Linked DNA regions of Homo sapiens. The protein of the gene in region 1 interacts with the protein of each later gene in a biochemical or structural test. Each region holds a gene or a part of one and is shown on either strand. Other genes may lie near its edges. The genes, in order: WBP2, KRT9, COPA, COPG1, SDHA and COPB2.

What was found.
Region 2: the proteins of WBP2 (region 1) and KRT9 form a complex in vitro, tested with the Homo sapiens proteins (one study listed by BioGRID).
Region 3: the proteins of WBP2 (region 1) and COPA form a complex in vitro, tested with the Homo sapiens proteins (one study listed by BioGRID).
Region 4: the proteins of WBP2 (region 1) and COPG1 form a complex in vitro, tested with the Homo sapiens proteins (one study listed by BioGRID).
Region 5: the proteins of WBP2 (region 1) and SDHA form a complex in vitro, tested with the Homo sapiens proteins (one study listed by BioGRID).
Region 6: the proteins of WBP2 (region 1) and COPB2 form a complex in vitro, tested with the Homo sapiens proteins (one study listed by BioGRID).

What each region holds. Positions count from the first base shown.
Region 1 is NC_000017.11:75,848,836-75,852,335, forward strand, and holds part of WBP2 (WW domain-binding protein 2), read right to left. Parts: intron 2,842-3,500; coding exon 2,733-2,841; intron 905-2,732; coding exon 769-904; intron 1-768. UniProt on the Homo sapiens protein: Acts as a transcriptional coactivator of estrogen and progesterone receptors (ESR1 and PGR) upon hormone activation. In presence of estrogen, binds to ESR1-responsive promoters. Synergizes with YAP1 to enhance PGR activity.
Region 2 is NC_000017.11:41,569,260-41,573,308, forward strand, and holds the start of KRT9 (keratin, type I cytoskeletal 9), read right to left. Parts: upstream 2,801-4,049; 5' UTR 2,734-2,800; coding exon 2,092-2,733; intron 962-2,091; coding exon 879-961; intron 757-878; coding exon 600-756; intron 329-599; coding exon 167-328; intron 1-166. UniProt on the Homo sapiens protein: May serve an important special function either in the mature palmar and plantar skin tissue or in the morphogenetic program of the formation of these tissues. Plays a role in keratin filament assembly.
Region 3 is NC_000001.11:160,291,251-160,294,750, forward strand, and holds part of COPA (coatomer subunit alpha), read right to left. Parts: intron 3,344-3,500; coding exon 3,234-3,343; intron 2,214-3,233; coding exon 2,136-2,213; intron 1,985-2,135; coding exon 1,916-1,984; intron 1,577-1,915; exon of another isoform or gene 1,371-1,576; coding exon 1,234-1,370; exon of another isoform or gene 949-1,233; coding exon 762-948; exon of another isoform or gene 680-761; coding exon 569-679; exon of another isoform or gene 247-568; coding exon 85-246; exon of another isoform or gene 7-84; intron 1-6. UniProt on the Homo sapiens protein: The coatomer is a cytosolic protein complex that binds to dilysine motifs and reversibly associates with Golgi non-clathrin-coated vesicles, which further mediate biosynthetic protein transport from the ER, via the Golgi up to the trans Golgi network.
Region 4 is NC_000003.12:129,270,106-129,273,605, reverse strand, and holds part of COPG1 (coatomer subunit gamma-1), read right to left. Parts: intron 1,840-3,500; coding exon 1,697-1,839; intron 1,461-1,696; exon of another isoform or gene 1,363-1,460; coding exon 1,191-1,362; intron 800-1,190; coding exon 702-799; intron 1-701. UniProt on the Homo sapiens protein: The coatomer is a cytosolic protein complex that binds to dilysine motifs and reversibly associates with Golgi non-clathrin-coated vesicles, which further mediate biosynthetic protein transport from the ER, via the Golgi up to the trans Golgi network.
Region 5 is NC_000005.10:235,320-238,819, reverse strand, and holds part of SDHA (succinate dehydrogenase [ubiquinone] flavoprotein subunit, mitochondrial), read right to left. Parts: coding exon 3,481-3,500; intron 2,393-3,480; coding exon 2,221-2,392; intron 1-2,220. UniProt on the Homo sapiens protein: Flavoprotein (FP) subunit of succinate dehydrogenase (SDH) that is involved in complex II of the mitochondrial electron transport chain and is responsible for transferring electrons from succinate to ubiquinone (coenzyme Q).
Region 6 is NC_000003.12:139,369,148-139,372,647, forward strand, and holds part of COPB2 (coatomer subunit beta'), read right to left. Parts: intron 2,687-3,500; coding exon 2,576-2,686; intron 398-2,575; coding exon 309-397; intron 221-308; coding exon 114-220; intron 1-113. UniProt on the Homo sapiens protein: The coatomer is a cytosolic protein complex that binds to dilysine motifs and reversibly associates with Golgi non-clathrin-coated vesicles, which further mediate biosynthetic protein transport from the ER, via the Golgi up to the trans Golgi network.

The DNA.
Region 1 (3,500 bases):
GGAGCCAGCACTGCAGCCTGGCCTGGCCCTGCTGTACTCGCTTCCCCCTTTGGAACAATGGCCTCTCCTTCCTGGAACAAGCCTGTCCTCCCACCCTTGGCCCAATATGTACACGGGTGCCAAGGCCACATCAAGGTTTCTCTCCGCCCCCAGTCAAGCACTCGGCAGCTTCACAGGAACAAGCCCACTCAGCAACAGCCGACCTTAAAATTCAGAGCAGACCTCTCGTCCTAAGGGGGCCCAAGGACAGACTCCGGCCCCTCTAGCCTGGCTTCTGCCCAAAGGGGGACCAAGAGTGTCTCAATAGCAAGGGCGGGCCTGGCTGGGTGTCAAGGGGAAGGCAAGTTCAATGCAGAGGTCTCTGGGGCCTGCCAAAAAGCCAGCCCCAAAGCAGGGTGACTCTGGCTTCCCAGAGGCAGCTGCCTCTTCCTGGCTCTCATGAAAAGGCCCCTCTCAAGAACCTGATGCAGCTCCTTCCTGAGTCTAAAATTTGTATGCGCTCGCCAAGTTGCACTAAGCATCTTGACTCAGTCCGCAGGCTTCTGCAGACTTCACGCTCTGAAAAGCTGATCTGAGCTGCTGTCTTTCATGCCAGCATTTTCCCCACCTCTTGGCAATCAAACCCCACCAGCTGGCAGCCCAGAGCTGGGAAGAGGTCATGGCTAGGGCGATAAGGGTCTGAAGGGGACGCCCCCACGGCGGCAGTCAGAGGTTCCCAGGACACCTCCCTGCAGGCCCCATGCGTGTCCCTGAGTTCCCATCACCTACCTCCCGCTTCCGCCTTCACTGTTCCCTTGATGTAGTTTGCACCAAATACGGGCTGCTTGATCTCACAGTCTTTCATGAGATAAAATGGCATCATGAAGGACTGCATGGCATCCTTGCCCTTGGACAGAAAGATGACCTGCAGGGAGAGAGGGTGAGGCCATCAGTACTAGAAGCACAGCCCACGCTGCCATGCTTCCCGCCTGCTTCCTGGGAGTGACGAATCCTCTCCCAGTGCCAGGGTCCAGCAGCCCCATGGCTCTCTCTGTGCCAGACACTCCTGGAGAGAGCTTTGGAAAGGGAAAGGGCTCACCGCAGCCTGGAGAGGCCAAGCTCACGCACACGGGAGAAAAACGTGCTGGTCACAGATAGTATCTATGAGCAGGGCAGACTGCTTTGTCACTGACGTGGTGGGGTGGTGGCAGTGTTGCCTAAGTGAAGGGGCCTACGAAGCTAGGGAAGGACAGGCAGAGGCAAGGCAGGGATGGGTTCCTGAAAGAGGGGGGTCTCCAGCCTGAACTCTCCAGAACTGAGAATGATGGTGCAGTAGGTCGCTAGCTCCCATTGAGGGGGGCTATAAACAGCAACAAGAGCTCTCCTGGAGCCTGTGCCTGGAGAAACCCTTGGGTTTTATTTTTTCTTTTCTTTTCTTTTTTTTTTTTTGAGATGGAGTCTTACTCTGTTGCCTGGGCTGGAGTGCAGTGGCGCGATCTTGGCTCGCTGCAAGCTCCGCCTCCCGGGTTCACGCCATTCTCCTGCCTCAGCCTCCTGAGTAGCTGGGACTACAGGTGCCCGCCACCATGCCCGGCTAATTTTTTGTAGTTTTAGGAGAGATGGGGTTTCACCGTGTTAGCCAGGATGGTCTCGATCTCCTGACCTCATGATCCGCCCGCCTCGGCCTCCCAAAGTGCTGGGATTACAGGCATGAGCCACCGCACCCGGCCCCAGCCAGGGTTTTAAACCCACGACTTTTATCTGTGACTGAAGGTGCCAAGTTGAGCCTCCAGAGATGGGGTTTTGAGACTCTCCTGTCTTTGTGAAGTCATGGAGATTAAAACTTGAAAATGTGCTCCTCTTCTTCCAGCTGTCTTTGAGTCTAAGTCTTTTTTTTTTAGGCAGGGTCTCACTCTGTTGCCCAGGCTAGAATCCAGTGGCATGATCCCAGCTCACTGCAGCCTCAACCTCTCCAGGCTCCAGTTATTCTCCACCTTACCTCTCGGGTAGCTGAGACTAGAGGCATGTGCCACCACACCCAGCTAATTTTTGTATTTTTTGTAGAGATGGGGTTTTGCCATGTTGCCCAGGCTGGTCTCGAACTCCTGAGTTCAAGTGGCCTGCCTACCTTGGCCTCCCAGAGTGCTGGGATTACAGGCATGAGCCTCCGCACCAGCCTGTCTTTGAGTCTAAATCTTGAGTAGCCACAGGCAGCAATCCTTTTCCAAGAACATCCATTTGTATTTCTCAACCTCTCAGAGTCCACGTGGGTAACTCTCAGGCAGGGCCCATTCTGCAGCCTGGCATTTGTCATTCTGCGGGGTGGTACCGGGCTCTCTGCCCAGTCCGGAGGCCGTGCCATGCAACTGTACCCTGTTTACTGGATTTCTCACTCTGGATACACACAGGGCTTCATGGGCTACTCTCACAGAAAACAAAATATTAATAATAATAGTCTGGCCTCCAGGCCCAAGTCATGCCAGCGGCTGCATCCAACTCTATAGAGATTTTGCAGCAGCGGCTCTGGAATTGACATGGGTTCACTGCCCAGTGGTCAGGTCAGTTACACAAAGAGCCTGGTGATTCTGGAATCCAGGAGCATGTGACAGAGAAACAGGCAGAGTGAAGCACTAACACTCACCAGGATTCAGAGGCCACCTGACTCATGAGGCTGAGGCAGACCTGAGACTAAGACTCACGTCACCTCCAACAGCAACAAGCCTCTCAACCAACTGCCCTGCTGTGCAACTCACCCGGTAAGGGGTAAGGTAGACAGTGCCTTTCTTGGTCCCTTTGAAGGCTTCTGGCACGTTCTTCATGTCATTGAATGTGAGTTCCACGTGATCATAGGACATTAGGATGCTGTGATGAGAAAAGAGGAAAAGCCTCAATGAGACAGTATGGAGACGCGACGTCACCCAGACACTGGGCCTTTCTCCCAAGCAGCTGCCCGGCACGTCAGCTCTCATAACCTCTCAATAGTGCGGCATTAAAACTATTCATAGGGCTGGGCGCGGTGGCTCACGCCCGTAATCCCAGCACTTTGGGAGGCCGAGGCGAGCGGATGACCCCTGGTCAGGAGTTTGAGACCAGCCTGGCCAACATGGTGAAACCCCATCTCTACTAAAAATACAAAAAAATTAGCCAGGCACCGTGGCGGGCACCTGTAATCCCAGCTAGTCAGGAGGCTGAGGCGGGAGAATCGCTTGAACCCAGGAGGCAGAGGTTGCAGTGAGCTGAGATGGCGCCACTGAACTCCAGCCTGGGCAACAAGAGAGAAGCTCTGTCTCAAAAACAAATAAATAAATAAAGCCATTCATAGGGCCAGGCGCAGTGGCCCACACCTGTAATCCCAGCACTTTGGGAGGCTGAGGCGGGTGAATCGCTTGAGCCTAGGAGTTTGAGACCAGCCTGGGCAACATGGTGAGACCTCATCTCTACAAAAAAACTAAAAACCAACAAAAAAACCCATTAATATAGCCATGGAAGAAATGAGCAGGTTGGGGGTTCTGTAAAATTTC
Region 2 (4,049 bases), about 34 Mb from region 1:
GTATGCAGTGAATGAAGATGGATGAATGACTTCCATTGGAAGATGGATAAATGACAGCTGCACTGAGAGATGCAGAGATAGGAGGATGAAGGAATGGGAGGTGGGAGGGATGGAGATAGGAATAGATGGAGGGGAGGAGGATGAATGGGCAGCCCACTCTGCTCACCTGAGTCTCATATTGATTCTCGATGTCCTTTCTGTTCTTAGCAATGAGCTGCTCATACTCCTGACGCATGTCATTGAGGGTCTTGGTGAGATCTTTGCCAGGAGCAACGTTTATCTCCACATTGACATCTCCACTGTTCTGCCCAGTCAGCTGACTCATCTCCTGCCAGGGAAGAAGGGGAGATGAGGTCACGGATAAAGTCCTCTGCACCACCTTTCAGAATTCTCCCTCTGGTCCCCCCAGGGTACAAAAAGGGGACACAGTTGTGAAGCCAAAGCCCAACCACTACCATAGGTGATGCCAAGGAGAAGTTGAAAGTGTCCTCAAGAGCAAAGGAGAGGGTGTCTCCCAGGTAATGTTCCAAAGCTCCCCTGCTGTCTCTGCATTTCTGCTCCTCCCTCTTCCCGGTAAGCCATAAGCCCCAGCAACCTACCTCCTTATGATTCTTCTTGAGGGCCATCAGCTCCTCCTGCAGAGTCTCATACTGCATCTCCAGGTCAGACTTCTCCATGGTCAGATTGTCCAGCACCTGCCGCAGGCCATTGATGTCAGCATCCACTCCTTGCCGCAGGTTTTGCTCCATCTCAAACCTGCAGACCAGCCAGGGTTAGAAAACAATCAAGAGGGAACCAGGCCCTACCAGGACCTCCAGAGCACTGAGGTTCAGGGGTAAGGGCTGATGACAGGAGAGGAGAAGAGGAGCAGGACTCACTTTATCCTGAAGTCATCCAGTGTCATGCGAGTGTTGTCAATGTCCAGGAGAGTTTTGTTGTTGCCCACTGTCAGGTCCACAATCTGAAAAAAAAAGGACACAGCCATGATATCATGCTGTGGACCACTGCTGAGAGGGCAAGAGGCCAGGCAAAGCCACAGGAGGTGAGGATTCCATCCAGGAAGATTCTCAAGAGGAATGAGGAACTTCCAACAGCTGGGACATGGCACAGACCCCTTCCAGCCTTCAGCGAAGATGTTTGGTGTGGCCTTCATTCATTCATTCAACAAATATTTGAAGATCTACTGCAAAGGGCATTGTAGGATTTAGAGATTACTGACATCCTGTTCCTCAGGGAGCCCACCATTGACTACAAAGTCAAAAGTGTCCTAAAAGAGTTCAAGGAAAGGAGAGGTGGCTTATGGCAATGGGAGATCAAGAAAGACTTCAGGAAGGAGGTGGCTGGCAATTGAATTGGGCCCTGAAGGATGGCTAAGATGTAACATTAATAAATAAATGGAAGAGGTTTAGAGTAGAAGAAACAGCACATTCAGAGACATGCAGGAGTTAAAACAAGAGGAATCACTGAGAATACTGAAGAGCCAGACCGTGAGCTCCACCAGAACTAGGTCTAGCACATCACTATGTCTACCCAGAGCAACCCTGAGGGTAGGCACTCACTGAACTGAGTGGCTGAATAAATGGATAGATAGATAGACATGTGGGTGGAGGGAGGAAGGGATAGATGGAAGGATGGATGGATAGATAGCTTCCATTCCCAGATTTCTGGATCCTCTCCAACACTTGAATAACCAACATGTACAGTCAGGTCCAAAATACCTTAAAAGATCAAGATACACTCCTAAAGAAGCCCAGGAGAAGTACAAAGGAAGAGAAAGTATTGACTTAGACCAAACCTAAAGGAGGTTCCACATCCAGTCCCAGCTCAGCTCACGTTAACCCAGGTCTCCTCTCTGCTCTGCCCAAACTCTGAAAGTTGAGGAAATGGAAGTGAACACTCAGAGCACAGGCCAAAGTCCTATCCTGGGATCCCCAGAAACCAAACACAAGTTTGTTTCTGATGAAAGCGTACATTTCCAAAAGGTGGATTCCCTGGCTATTATCTGAGCTTAGAGTTTAGCATTTTAACTTTTTTGGAAGATAAAGAATGAAAGAGAAAGAGACCAAGACAGAGACAGTTTCCTGCACCTACCTGGTCCTTGAGATCATCAATAGTGTTATAATAAGGGGAGTAGTTCTTCTGGATAGCAGCAGGTCCCTTCTTGTCGTACCAATCCTGGATCTTATTCTCCAGGTCGTTGTTGGCCTCCTCTAGAGCCTGCACCTTATCCAAGTAAGAGGCCAGCCGAGAATTGAGTTCCTGCATGGTGCTCTTCTCATTAGCAGTCAGAATACCACCATCACCTCCTCCAGCACCACCTCCAAAGCCCCCAAACCCCCCAAACCCACTCCCATAGCCACCACCAAAGCCACCTCCAGAACCACCACCAAAGCCACCTCCAAAACCCCCAGAACTACTATAGCCTCCTCCAGAAGCACCACCAAAACCTCTGGAACCACCCCCAAAGCCACCGCCTAAACTACTGGCACTAAAACCACCCCCAGATCCTCCGCCGTAGCTGTAGCCAAAACTGCCACCGCCTCCCCTCCCACAGACACGAGAGCTTCCCCCACCATAGCCACTAGAAGAGCTGAATCGGCCCCCTCCTCCACCGCCCCCTGAGGAGCTGAAGCGGCTGTAGGAAGACCTTATGCTGCCCCCGCTGCCCAGGCCGCCCCCGCCACCCCCGCCGCTGCGGCTCAAGTAGGACGAGGAGAACTGTCTGCAGCTCATGACACAGCTGGTAGCTCACGGGTTGAGAAGCAGTGATAGGAGTGCTACCGGCTCCCAAGTGCAGGGTACAGAGCTGTCCCTGGGGCTGCCTACTTATACCCCCAGCTGAAGGTGGCACGCCTGGGTGTGCCCTTGTTCTGTGCCAGCCTCCCCCCACAGACCCGAGGGAGGTCTGGGATACGGAGGCAGCCGGGCTGCCCCAGGCTCAGCGTCCTTTGGTGACTGCCTGGGGGCGGCCCAGCCTCTCTCCATTGTGTGGGATAATTTGATGACATTAGGCTGTCAGGGCCACCATAAATCAGCTGTACTGCCACAGGGGTGACCTAGATCCTGGAGTCTGGTCTCTGGCTGGCCCCAACAGCAGGTCTGAGACTTAGCCCCTTCGGGATAGAAACTCCCAAGAGCAGAGTCACCTCCTCTATTGATGGTCATTACTGTCTGCATCCCTCATGCCTCCTTGCTCCCACCTTGTGCCCACTGTGAGCTGAGCTGGAACTAGGGTACTAAGGAGTTATCATAGAGGAGGGGGAGGCACAGCCCCTGCCCTTGTGGAGCCCCAAATGGATGAAAACCAATCCTTGCTCTCAGGATCCTCGAGGCTTTCTGCAGAGTCTGAGGCTCTGCCCTTGGGAGACTCCAGTTTGATGAGGAGGCAACTGGCATGGCCAAAAGATGGAGACGGGCACCGAGACCATGCCCGCCAGCACTAAAGGACAGCGTGCAGAGTTCACACAAAGGGCTGGAAGAAGAAAGTGGACCAAATAAACAAGGTGGTGCTGACACTAGCTGACCTCTGAGCAGGAATGCAAGTGGCTCGACTGTCCTGGTCCTTTTGCAGGGCCCAGCAGGGAGTGTGGAATTGACCTTGGTTGAGTGCCTACCCCATACAGAACTCTGGAGGGGATACAGAGATGTGTGACTTATCCCTGCTCCTGGCAGAAACTTGGATGTATATTCTGGTCACCAAGGCCAGAAGAGAATGGTAAAGAACACGCTGGTCTCCGGTGTGCCTACCTGAGCTCCATCCAGCTCCATGCTCATGAGCTGTGTGACTTTGATAAGTTACTTAAATACTCTGTGCCTCAGTTTCCTCCTTTGAAAAAGGTTGATATGAGTAGTTTGTCCATCTCCTAGTAAGAGACTTGTGAGAAGTGCTCAAAAAATGTTCGGCTGCCTCTGATCATTCAGCCCCCTAACTCCCCGTCAACTCTGCCCTCACCCAGACCTTAGCCATGAGCTTCTAACTGCCCTCCCTGCCTCTCCCATTCCCTCTGACTCTTCCTGCACAGCAGCCAGAATGACCTTTCTAATCCATG
Region 3 (3,500 bases), on another chromosome or scaffold:
TTTCAGAGGCAAGGACCTTGGTCTGCTCCCTCCATGTAAGAGCTGATCTGGCTTCCCTATGGTCACTGAAGGAGTTCCATCTACCTGTTGGGCCACCTCAGGCTTGGGCCCGAGTTCTAGTAGGCGCCGAGCAAAGGTGGCAGCTGTCTTGAAGTTCTTGAGCTTGAAGAACAGATTGAGGGCTGTACGCAGCACCAGGATCATGTGCACAGGCTGCAGGTTTGAGTGGGTGAAATAGGCTGCCATCTGGTGGACAGAAAAAGGAACACATGCCAGGTTGATGCTACACCTGGTAGAAGTCATTTCTAAGCTGCTACACATGCATAAAAAACACAACACAAAATAGGATGATGGGCTATAAAGCTGAGAGGTCTTCTACCTCCTAGGTATGGAGGACTGGTGAGATGAGGAAGTAGGATGAAGAAATGTATCCTCCCCTCATAGAAATGAAGGGCCTAAATTTCTCTTCATCCCCACTCAGATCTGGGTTTGAAATTAAAGAATTCAAACCTAGTGAAGGGTGAAGGGAAGGACGTCTCTGTTGTGCTCAGGGTCCTATAGATCTTACCTCACAGATGCGCTTCTGCTGTTCTAGAGTCTCTTTGGGCAGCTTCTTCCTTTCTGTCTCCACGGACAAACCCACAATGTACTCACGGCAAATGGTGATGAGCTGCTGGGCCTGTAGAGGGGGCAGAAGGTCAGGATACAGAGACAAGAATGTGGAAGTGCCCAGAACTGGGACAGCGGCTAGACCCTCCTACCTCTGCAATCTCTTGTTTATTGTCCACAACAAGAAGTGGCACACTGAGAAGGATGGAACGGAATTTTTCCACAGCCTCCTCAAATTTGCCAACTGTGGTGAGCTGGTAGCACAGCTGCAACCGTTGGATGAGGTCATTAAGCTTCAGGCCCACAGCTGGTACACCATTCTTCAGCCCTGCATCCTTCCTGGAAAGGGAAAAGTAGGAAGAAGACAGGATAGTCAGTAGGCAACTAGGACCCAATTTCCTTTTCTGGCAAACATCCTCATAGCTACCCTCCTGTCTCCTGTTAAAGTAGCTGGGGAAGAGGATGACAGCAGGTGTAAACCAACCCCATAGAGTAACAAACCAAAGATCTTTTTCTACTGGGAAACCCTAGCTCTGAGAGAATTCTGACTATGTCACTGAGGCTACCATCTGAAATATCGACCACAACTTGGAACAGATGAAAGCAAAGAGAAAAGGGCCTTACCAGTTGCGATTAGGATAGCCATACATGGAGGGTAGGCAGGGCAGAGCCTGATAGGTTGTGCGGCCTCGGGCGTATGTCTGTAGGAACAGTTGCTTGTAGGGGCCAAACTGGATTACCCCTACTTGGTCATGAAGGAGCTGGAACAGAAGGAAAGAAACAAGGATTTTGGCCCTGCTGCATAAAAAGCTACTTTTCCTTGGGCAAGGTAATTAATTTCTCTGTTCACGTTTCCTCATCAGTAAAATACACTTAATTGTAAGACCTACCTCATTTAATGATACCTATTAAAGTATTTAGGATAGTGCCTGGCACACAGTGAACATTAAATAAACGTTAGCAGTTATTGCAGTGTTATCATTATTGTTGTTATTATAACAATACTGGCTTAGTGTTCAAAACAGACCTCTGCTTGGAAAGGGGTACTTATCTCACTGATATGAGCCAGAAAGCAAGCTATAAATGGGTGGAAGATGACTGAAGGATATGCCCTAAGAGATTACTAGGCCAAGTGGAAGGCAGATAACAGGAAGGCAAGTGTACTTAACAAAGATAAAGAGTTTTCATGAAAAATATACACCTTTCCCCTTATGGGTAGGATAATTTCCCTTGATTAAAATGAGTCAACCATCTCCCGGGGACCCTGGGCTAGGCACACTCAAGAGGAAAAGCCAAGGTTACTTACCCGCATGGCTGTTTCGAAAGAGCCTGCCAGGATGTGATCAACTGGAAGCTGAGAGTTATTACACCAGATCTAACAAGAAACAAAAAAACCCAAGCCAAGTGAAACTTTGTCCCTTCTCTATTCTCCTCTGTAACTATAGTAGAAAAGTAGCCAACACCTGTTATATACCAATCAAGTATTAGCCACTCATCCCTGCCGTGCTAGGTTTCTTCCCGCTTACCTGAGTTGGACTTGTTCCCTTGGTTGGGGGCACAAAGAAACCATCTTCAGCCCCACCAGCTGCCCCAGGGGATATATCCTAGGGGAAAAACAAAAATTGAGTATTGAGTAATTTTTTTTTTTTTTTTGAGACAGGGTCACACTCTGTCACCTAGACTGGAGTACAGAGGCATGATCTCGGCACACTGCAACCTCTGCCTCCCATGCTCAAGCAATCCTCCAACCTCAGCTTCCCGAGTAGCTGGGACTGCAGGCATGAGTCACCACACCTGGCTAATTTTTGTATTTTTTTGTAGAGATGGGGTTTTGCCATGTTGCCCAGGCTGGTCTCCAACTCCTGAGTTCAAGTGATCTGCCTGGCTCAGCCTCCCAAAGTGCTAGCATTACAGGCGTGAGCCACTGTGCCCAGCCAAATTGAGTAATTTTTTAAGCCATTCAAGCACTTTGTTCTGTTGAATCTAGAACACAACCATTTACATTGTTCCCTGCCCCCACTGAGGAAGAGGGGTGATAGTTGTGGGAGAAGGCTGCCAAAATAGGAGCCACCTCACCAGTGACAAAATGACATATCAAAAACTCCAATTCAGATGAAACAGCTTGCTACCTTCTCATAAGCTGCTGCTGGCAGAACGCTGATTACCTCATTCTTCTTTCTTTCAAATGGGAGTTAAGCATCAGATTAGAGATAAGTCCTACATCCTCTCCTCTTGGAGCATATCAGGATAGATGGAAGTGACAAGGCCACTAACTTTGACTCTCTCGTTCTTCCTGCTTCTTTTACTTTTTAAAATAGAGACAGGGTCTTGCTATGGTGCCCAGGCTGGTCTTGAACTCCTGGGCTCAAGCAATTGTCCTGCCTTAGCCTCCCAAAGTGCTGGGATTACAGGCATGAGTCACCGTGCCCAGCCATCTTCCTTCTTTCAAATGGGAGATAAGCATCAGACTAGGAGGGTCTAGTCCCCTTCCCAGAAGGGCTGACCTTAGGATAGTGGTAGGGGATAGGATAGGAGACCTGAGGATAGTGGTAGGGGACAATAAGGCCTCTGGCTTCCACAGGGAGATACGGAGAGAACCTTCTAAGGGTACAAATTCCACATACCAGCTCAGGAGGGAGCTCCAGATCTTCTTCTACATCCCAGCCACCTCCTTCTTCCTGTCCCTTGCCAAGAGCATCATCCCCCAAACCTTCTGTAGCCTCCACAAACCCATCTGTAAGGAAAATTCAAGCTCAAAACAGATTTGGGCAGTGGCATAATCTTAGCCAAAGGAAGTAAAATCAATCCTAGTTCGTTTCATGGCCTGGAAGTCTGCAGAGCTACCCACAACCCAGTCCCAATCCAAGGTGTCCATCACCCCAGAACAGTCT
Region 4 (3,500 bases), on another chromosome or scaffold:
CAAGTTTTGACATAGTATATAACAGTATTTTAAATCCACTAAAAAAATTGTGTTTATGAAGTATTTGTAATGATACTGGAAAATACACTATGGTTTTAAAATAGCAAGGTCTACACTGTAAGAATGATTTCAATTATACCACTTCCCCCCAAAAATAACTCTAAGGATTATGAGTAATGTTTTCCTGTTGTTCATACTTTGTTTTGAATTTTGTTTTTGTATTTCCCAAGTTTTCTTTTTACACATGAACATGTATTTCCATAAGTTTAAAAAGTTATTTTAGGCCGGGCGCGGTGGCTCACGCCTGTAATCCCAACACTTTGGGAGGCCAAGGTAGGTGGATCACCTGAGGTGAGGAGATCGCGACCAGCCTAGCCAACATGGTGAAACCCTATCTCTACCAAAAATACAAAAAATTTGGCAGGCATGGTGGTGGGCGCCTGTAATCCCAGCTACTTGGGAGGCTGAGGCAAGAGAATCGCTTGGACCAGGGAGACAGAGGTTGCAGTGAGCCGAGATCGCGCCACTGCACTCCAGCCTGGGTAACAAAAGAGAAACTTCATCTCAAAAAATAAAAATAAAAAAATAAAATTTTAAAGAGCTAAAAAGCCAAAAACAGCTCCAGTCTCACTGTCAGTTCCTGAAGGGAGTTGCTTTGCAGCCTCAGCACAAAACTGAGCTTCCTGACACCAGGATCTTACCACATACTCATCCTCATAGCCTTCGTCATCAGTCTCCCCAGTGGTGGGATCACAGTCCTTGACAGTGAACTTCATCATGCAGCTGAATGTGCAGGCCACTGTGGGGAAGAGAGGCTGGGTAGTTAGGATGTCCCCAGCCTGCAGGGGATGGGCTCCTCCTGCAGGGGACAAGCAGGCAGGGGTCACAGCCTGCTTTCTAGGCCCCTGCTATGTTATTAGTAGCAGCAACAAGCCATCCAATCCCACAAAGCTGGACAGAGGGTGCCACCTTGTAGGACAGGAAAGTCATGAGTTCTAGTGAGATCCTGTCTCTTTAAAAAAAAAAATTTTTAAAGAAGAGCACTTGGGACTCAGCTATTCTTCTTCTTGGGACTGAAATCAAGGAGCTGAAGCTCTAATAGAAGGCAAACAGCTGGTGCCCAGCCGCCCACCTCCTCCTGACCCCATGAGCTCCCAGGAGGATAGGGTGGTATCTGGAGAGGGGCTCACCAGCTGTGGGGTCTTCTTTGGGCAGTGCCACCAGTGTGTAGCAGGTCCCGGGCTGGTTGTAGGGCAGGCTCCGGGCAGGCACGTAACAGAGCACCTCATAGGCCTCAGTGGGCTCCATCTGCACTGTGACATTCTCCAAGGTCTGGTCATTGAGTGTGTTTGTGCAGTCAAACTGAACAGGAAAGAGAGGGGAGCTTAAACATTGCACTAGGTCCGAGCCATGCTGCAGAGGAAAAGCCAGGAGGTCCCACCTCTTTCCTATTGACCAAGGTGATTCCCATCCCAGTCCCCCTGCCCCAGGTTCCCTGTCTTCATGCTGACAATCGGGAGCCATGGATGTCCCGAGTCAAGAGATATGAGAGACCGACCTGTTGGGGACAGATTCTGTCATCAAGTTGGGCTCCCAACCAATGCAGTGTGGGGACCCATGACCCTACAGGACCTGCCAGACCTGGGACAACTCCCTGGGCGCATGCCCCAGCAGGGCCTCAGCCCACCTTGCTCACCTGAAAAACCATGTGGTTGGTGAAGGTGTGTTTGGTGCAGCGGATGACATACTCCGTCTCTGACTCGGTGAGGGCCACGGGCTCAGGCGAGGACTTGAAGAGGGGCCCAAGACCGCGGAACTCTGGCACTGCTGCCAACTGCTCTGAAATCCACAGGCCACATTCACTCAGCTTCTCGATCCCCAGACCAACTTGTTGATGGTTTCTAATAAATTCCCATGACCATTCTCAAGGTGTTCCACCCTACCTTAGATGGATAGATATGTTTACCCAACTGGCTACTCATTATTTCCTGAATATATCCATGCATTTTCTCATCTCCCTGACTTCGCTCATGTGGCACAACCCCCCACAAATACTCTCCCCATCTCTGTACCATGAAAGACCTCAGAAGCAAAAAACTGATATGAGACCACAAAATCCTAGACCTAATTGGAGAATCCCCCAGCTATAGAAGCTTAGCAAGGATTTCCGCCCCCTACCGCAGCAAGGATTCTTAAAAGAAGGTGACAATTAGGAAAATAAGATCGATACTGCTATAGCTACAAAATCAGACAAAATAACAAACTGGTCCTATATATTTATCAGTTAAGACAAATGGCCAATAAAGAGATATTTCAGAATGAGAGTGTTGCAGAAAACCTAACTTAGAATTGTTTGTGTCTGGTAAGACCTATCCCTACACCCTATGCCCAGGTTCAAGCACTGGATTCAAGCACAGGCCCATGGGACCCCACCCTGGCTGGTCCTGGCATTCCTTGCAAACTAAAGGGAATAACCCAAGTGAATGAGGCATCTGGCAGATGTGTGCACATGGTGTCCACCTATAATGGCTACAGCTGCCACTCTTGTACCTATTCTATGGCAGGATTCCTCGCACTATGACCATGGATCAACTGTATCAGAATTACTAGGGGTTGGCGGCAGAGCTTGCTAAAAACTCAGACTCCATCCCAAATCTACTACATCAGAATCTCTGGTTTCAGGATCAAGGAATTTGCATTTCTAACATGTTTCCTCAGATTATTCCAATATATACTGATATTTAAAGACCACTGCTCTAAGATTTTCAACTTGTCTTCCCAATTAATTGAACTCCATGAGAACAGGGATTGTGCTTTGAGGCCATGGATCTGATATTTTTCCCTTTACTTAGAAGGTACTCAATTCACGTTTCAGACATAGAGAAAGGTAGGCCTTATTTTTATTATTTTGCTTTTTTCCTCCACAAAAAGTCAGCCTATGTGACCACTTCAGCCCTCTGCAGCCTGAAGACTGAATCTAATGAATATGCAGGCAATAAAAAGCCCAGAACAATCCAGGCTAGATATTAGGAGGAACTTTTGGGCCACCATGACCATCAACCACTAGAGTGCTTTTCTATTGATATTTATTTTCTTGGGACTCAGAGTTTTGGGCCTGATACTTACTCCCTGGGGGATTCTGTTGGTAGGGTTTCAGACTCTTCATCAATAAAACTGATATCATTATCTTGATCACAGCGTTGTTGTAAAGACAAATGAGGCAATAAATTCAAGATCTAGGAAAGTTCTTGGAACTGAACATGTATGTGATTAGTAAATGTGAGGCTTTTGGATGATTGTTTAAAAATGGAATTGTTACCCTTTAAGCGGCTTAGGAGACTTCCTTGGAAGGTGTGGCAGAATAATGACTCCAAGATGCCCACATGCTAATTCCCAGAACCTGCAGCTATGTTACCTTGCATGGTAAAAGGGACTTTGTAGATGTGATTAAATTAAGGATCTTGAGCTAGGGGTTATCCTGGATTATCCAGGGGGGGCCA
Region 5 (3,500 bases), on another chromosome or scaffold:
GCCCAGCTAATTTTTGTATTTTTGGTAGAGACGGGGTTTCACCACGTTGCCCAAGCTGGTCTCGAACTCCTGAGCTCAAGCAATCTGCCTGCCTCGGCCTCCCAAAGCGGTGGGATTATAGGCGTGAGCCACTGCACCCAGCCTCAGTTCTACCAATTTTAACACATGTATAGGCGCATGTAACCACTTCGGGAGGCTGAGACAGGAGGAACACTTGAGGCCAGGAGTTCAAGCCCATCCTGGGCAACACAGGGAGACCCTGTCCCTACAAAACATTTTTAAAAATTAGCCAGGTGTGGTGGTGTGCACCTGATCGTACCACTGCACTACAGCCTGGGCGACAGAGGGAGACTATCTCTTAAAAAAAAAAAATACATATATATGTGTATATATATGTATTTTTTTTTGCAGGGGGTTTTGGGGGAGAATAGTGATGCTACAAGCATTTTTTCTTTCCTTTTCATTTTTGAAAATTAAAGCATAAAGATACAGTAAAATAAACTCATCATTTTTAGTGTAGGGTTTTTCAAATTTTGACACACACAGAGTTGTGTCTGTAAGTCTCAGCACAATCAGGAAGCAGCCTCTGGCAACCACCAATCCCTTGTCTTCCCTAGATGTGCCTTTTCCAGAATGTCGTATCAACAGAACCACAGGCATGCAGCCTTTTGAGTCTGACTCCACAGCATTCTGCGTGAGATGCTGCATGCGTGGGCGGTTTCTCAGATGTAAAGTATAGGGTATTCTTACAAAATGTTCTTTTTTGCATTTTCAAAGAAAGAGCAGCTCAAAATTTCTACATTGCTCTGAGAGAAGTGGTATCAGTCCTCACTGCGACAAAGTGCAGGGCTATGGAGTGAGACAAGCACTACCTGCGGCGTCAGGAACGATGGACCTGAACTCCGCCTTCGCCGATGATCACCAATGGCTGGGGATGAGACGCCAGCTCTGCGTGTGCTGGCCTCCCGAGCGGTGGTCAGATCCAGAGACAGAGTGTCTGAAGTAAGCTACCCTTTTAATACTATCTGCACCTTTCTAACTACAGATACAAAAGGGGGCACGTTTATAAGTTACAGCCGTGCTAGTTTTTATTTCACTTGAATCCATACAAAAAGCACCTGTTGTATAAAAACAGCAGAAATGATGCTAACAGTTAACACCAGAGAAAGGTAACGGGAAGAACATGGGCCTGGGGTCCCACCATCCTTGCCACGCAAACATCCACCAGTGCCTCATCCACCTCACACTGTTCTGAGCACACGAGGCTGGATAACCACCGTGAGGATGTCTGGAGGTGGGAGAGATGCTAACTGCCCCGTTCTTAGTGCACGTAAGACTCACACTCCCACACATGGTATTTCCTTTACTGCACATTATTTGATGCTATCATGAAAAGAAAACCAGCAAGTGAAATCCAATCTGTCCGTAAAGGGTGGGAATCCTGTTCACTGTAAGTCATCCCTTCTCCTCTAATAGAGGCTAGCTGTACTTTGTTTCTAGAATGGCCTAAATTACTTTTCTAAGTACCAAGAAGTTACATATTCATTCATGCCAACTACTTAAAATATTTCATTGCAAATAAGTGATTTTTATCAGGCAAGTAATATGTAATGATTCCCCTAAAAATAACAACTTTCTAATAGTGCTTTTTCTAAACAGAACATAATGACTGCAAAATAATTAAAAAAAAATGTAACCCCAAAAATGTCACCTTAACTGTTAAGATCCCCAACCAGCCTCTATCTAGTCTCAACATTACCACCATATAATTTCTGGATTTCTCAGTTTAATCACTTCTGGGGGAAAAACCCAGACTACCTCTATATGATCACTAAGCAAATTTCCAGTAAGAAATCAAGGCTTTGTAACCTGGCTGGGTGCAGTGGCTCATGCCTGTAATCCCGATACTTTGGGAAGCTGAGGCAGGACTGTTTGAGTCTAGGAGTTCAAGACCAGCCTGGGCAATATTGTGAGACCCTGTCTCTACAAAATAAATTTTTTTAAAAATTAGCCAGGTGTGGTGGTGCACATCTGTAGTCCCAGCTACTTGGGACTCTGAAGGTTGAGGTGTTGAAGACTGCTTGAGCCCGGGAGGTTGAGGCTGCTATGACTGTGCCACTGCACTCCAGCCTGGGCTGACCCTTTCTCAAAAAAAAGAAAAAAGACTTTCTAACGTCCTGCGCCTTCTCAAATAGTCTGGCTCCTGAAGAAAACACTTACCAGGCCTGCATGACTCTTCGATGCTCAGGGCACATGCCCGACCAAAGACAACCAGGTCCAAGAGCGAGTTTGCCCCGAGGCGGTTGGCACCATGTACCGAGGCACAGGCGGCCTCCCCACAGGCGTACAGGCCGGGCACAATCTGATCCTGGCCATTCACGTGCCTCAGGACCTGTGGAAAGGAAGATTTCAGGTGAAATGTCAAGGTGCCCATGCCTCCACCAGCCCACCTTCCCCAACAGGGTGTCTGTGCTGCAGGTCAGAGAGAGGGAAGTAGGCCAGGCGTGGTGGCTCACGCCTGTAATCTCAGCACTTTGGGAGGCTGAGGTGGGTGATCACCTGAGGTCAGGGGTTCAAGACCTGTCTGGCTAACACGGTGAAACCCCATCTCTACTAAAAATACAAAAATTAGCGGGGCATAATGGCGGGTGCCTGTAATCCCAGCTACTAGGGAGGCTGAGGCGGAAAAATCACTTGAACCTGGGAGGCAGAGGTTGCAGTGAGCTGAGATCGCACCACTGCTCTCCAGCCGAAGCAACAGAGTGAGACTGCATCTCCAAGAAAAAAAAAGAGAGGGAAGTAAAGACCGTATCTAAGAGGGAAGTAAGGACCATAGCTACTCTTCTTCAGAGGGAAGCTTCCGAAGGTATCCCCCAGTTTCCCCTCTGCCCCTGAGCACCTGCTGTTACAAGCAGGTCAGAGGACCTCCAATGTCAGCATCTGCGACTGTCCCCCGTGTCCCATGTTCCCGGGGCCCTCACCACCTGTGCTCCGGCTCAGACCCAGGAGCACGGCAGGTGGAGGAACATCAGCAGGGGAGACTGATGTTCCAGACTGTTCTACCCCGTTCACCTCTTCGTCTACGCAGGGAGAGCAACAGCTTCCACCCACCTCGCCCAACAAGGAGCCTAAGTGACTGACAAGCTCTGTGTGAACCACAAACCACTCAAAGGAATGAATTATAAAGATCCCTTGATGTGTAAGATCATTAGAAATAACACAAGATCATATAGGAAAGTAATTACAAAATGGAAAAAGCTGCAAATGATGTATCTCTGACAATTTACTAAGGAGGAATAAATTATTAAGCCCCCTCCATCCTCCGGTAATAGAAATTTAAAGTGCAATCTAGAAAACAATACAGTACTTTCTTGAAGGAAACATCTATCTTTTCCTGTAAGATCTAAAGAGACAACTGCGAGGTGGGCCCCGTCGTCCCAGCCTTCTTTCCAGCTGTGGGGGAGGAGCCAGCACCATCACCTGCCCCTTGTAGTTGGTGG
Region 6 (3,500 bases), on another chromosome or scaffold:
TTTTGATAATCGAAGAGGGAGAGCAGGGTACAAAAGACACTTCTTGGCCTTAGGGACCCAGAACTCATCACAAAAATAAATATTCCAAAAACAACAATGGAGGGGAAACTCACATGTTTGGGCTGAATTTCAATTCTTCGTATGAGTTCTGTATTGTCCCAGTCATAGAAGGCTAAGCCATTTACAGATCTGACTCCCAATAAGAAGCCGCCGTAGATACCTAAAGGGAACATAAAAAGAGTTTTGCTTAGGCATTTTTGAGCCATTACAAAGAATTTAAAAATGTATCATATGTAGATCACACTCACTTTCTGCTCCAAAATCTGGTTTAAATGATTTTTTTTCCTTAAAGTTCTTAAATATCTTTACAATGCTGTTGCTCTCTCTTATTGCATACCTGGGAGAAAAAAGGGAAGGCAAACATAACATGTTATATACTAAATCATAGTTCTACCAAATGTTGGAAATATCTTCAAATATTTTTCAGTAATTATGCAAAAATATAAAATAAATATTTGAAGATTATCTGATGTACTGTTTTCCTAAGAGATCAGAGAACTCCTTACAGTTGGACAAATGATGAAAGGGTTTTATACTGTGTATGACATGAATTACTAGGGCTTACAAACCACTTTAGAAACTGAAAATGACCCAAATGTCCACAATAGGTGAATGATTAAACAAATTATCGTATATTCATATAATGGAATGCTACTCTGCAAATAAAGAAACCAATTACTGATCCAGGCAAGAATATGGATGAATCTCAAAAACATTATACTGAACAAAAGATGCTGGACTCAAGAGTACATACTGTATGATTCCATTTATATGAAACTCCAAAGACAACTCTAATCTATATAGTGACAAAAGGCACTCATCAGTGTTTGCCTGGGACTGGGGAATGGGTGGATGGGGGGTATGGACAGACTGTTAATGGAGACAAGGGGATTTTGCGGGGATGATAGAAATGTTCTATAATTTGATTGTGTTAGTAGTTACGGATTACATACATTTGCCCAAATCTACTGACATGAACAGTAGTCCTCCCTTATCCATGGGGGATACGTTCTAAGCCCCAATGGATGCCTGAAACCTCAGATAGTACTGAACCCTATATACACTATGTTTTTTCCTATAATGTAAGAGGTGGGCAGCATATACAATGTGGATATGCTAGACAAAGCGATGATTCACGTCCCAGGTAGGATGGCTCAAGATTTCACCATGCAACTCAGAACACTGGGCAATTTAAAACTTATGAGTTGTTTATTTCTGGACTTTTCCACTTAATATTTTTGGAACACAGTTGACTGTGGGTAACTAAAACTGCAGGAAGGGAAACCACAGATCGGGGGATCGCTGTACAATTAAGTGGTACATTCTGTCTTCTGTAAATTATACCTCAATAAGGGCGATTTAAATAATAAAAACTGTGACAAATGGTTCATTAATCAGCCATCATCAGCAACAACTGCTTATATTCAGGCCTCTGCCTTGAAAAAAGGAGCTGTGGCTATCACTGGATATTTAAGATTGTCTGAGGAAGTGATGTGATGAGGGCTTTGCTCAGGACAGGAAAGATGCTGAGCAAGGTCTTGGCTGGATAGAGCTGAAAAAAAGGACTATCAAAATAGAGGAAGAGGTGTGCTGAGAGAAGGCAATTCATCAACTATAATTTTGCTTAAGATAACACATTACCTTTGAATACATAGAACTGTATGTATATGTGTATTTAGGAAATTTATGAAAATATCAGAACAATTCCATACCTCTCAATAAATCTTACTGTTGTAACATTTTAAAAAATGTATCTTATTACACAACGCTGAGGCTTAAGTTACCCCACTGTTGGGGGCAAGATGCAACATAAAATGTGGGGCAAACAAAACTAAAAAAACTGTGAAAATGTAATTCAGTTGTGTGGTCTGAAAACACTAAACCCCTAATGTTTATTACGTGCATTAAACAGGAATCAAAAAGGAACCAGAGCCAATGACTAGTAAAAAAGTCAGAGTTAAATGATCTTTCCTGCTTTTAATGAGAACATTTTATGAACATTCTGAATTCAGACAGAAATTTGTTAAGAATGGGCAGTGGGTACTATCACAGAAAATAAGTTTTAAAAAAGATTTAATAAATTTCTCATCAAAATGATCAAACCACAACATCACTCCCAAGTAGCTCATAAAGGGGCAGTAGCACCTCAGGACACTACATCACAGGGAGGGCATGCCAAGGCCTGCCAAGGCAGACATGAGGGTCTACTGTGCCTTAAGCCCATAAAGCACCAGGTCCTGCCATGGGCTCCATCAAAGAAATGGGTGCTGGGTCCCCAGTTAAATGGAATTATTGTATCAGCTTGAGTGAGCCAGCCTAACGCAGAACAAAGAAAGCACTAAGACGGCTCATGCTATACACTCGCCTCTGACTCTCATCTTCCAATGGACAGCTCTGGTGAGAACTGTTTTTTAACACGGAGAATCACAGCCCACATCAAGCCTTGAGAGTCTTCAAGCAGCACACAACACATCTGCAATCAGGGCATGCTGGCTATCATACAATCAAAACTTACTCTGAAGAATCGTGGGCCCATGCAAACTCCTGAGCAGATCCAAAGCTCTTGTTTCTCAATGCCATTGCTGTGTAGATGATATACTCCCCATCACCACACACCACCACAAACCTAGAAATCACAGAAGCCAGGGAGGGAAGTACAGAGGACCAAAGACATGTAGAAGTTAAGGAACAATAATTCATGTTATGGTAAAAGAATTCTAATAACAAATGTTATTTAGTTCATTATTACAATTTAACATCTTTTAAAAGTTATACATTTCTTTGAATACAAAGTTACAAAAAAAATTCTAGCCAACAAATTGAAAAGGAAATTATGAATATGGCATTACTGCTGAAATGTTATTGGAATGGTCTTCTCATAAATAAAGGCAACTGGAGGCAGGAAGGTGAGAATGGCTGGAAATGCAAAGGAGGAGGATTCCAATTATTCAACCAGTATTTGTTGAGCACCAAGATGCCTAGAACTTTGCTCATGACATTTATACCACAGGAAGGCACTATATTATTACAAAGACTATCTTCATTTTAAAGCTGATCATTCAAATGAATAAAAATATCTCACTCCAGGTTTTAAAGACTTAAATTCAGCAAAATACAGAGGATATTTTAACATTTAAATAATGAGAAAACAGAATGCTGCAGAGTCAACGAAAATTTTCCCAATGGACATAAGACAACTATCTTTAAAGTTGTTTATAACACTGTAAAGGCTGGTATCAAAAGACTGCCAAAGGCAAAACTTACAGCCAAGAATGTTTTACGATATTAAGGGAAATATGCATAATGCATTCTTAACCTTTATAAGACAATTATATTACAAATAATTATGGATACCATTTACTGAACTAGGCGGCATACTTGGTTTATATCTTTTGTCTTTTTCAATACTCAGCACAGCATTATAAGATGCCCAGACCTGC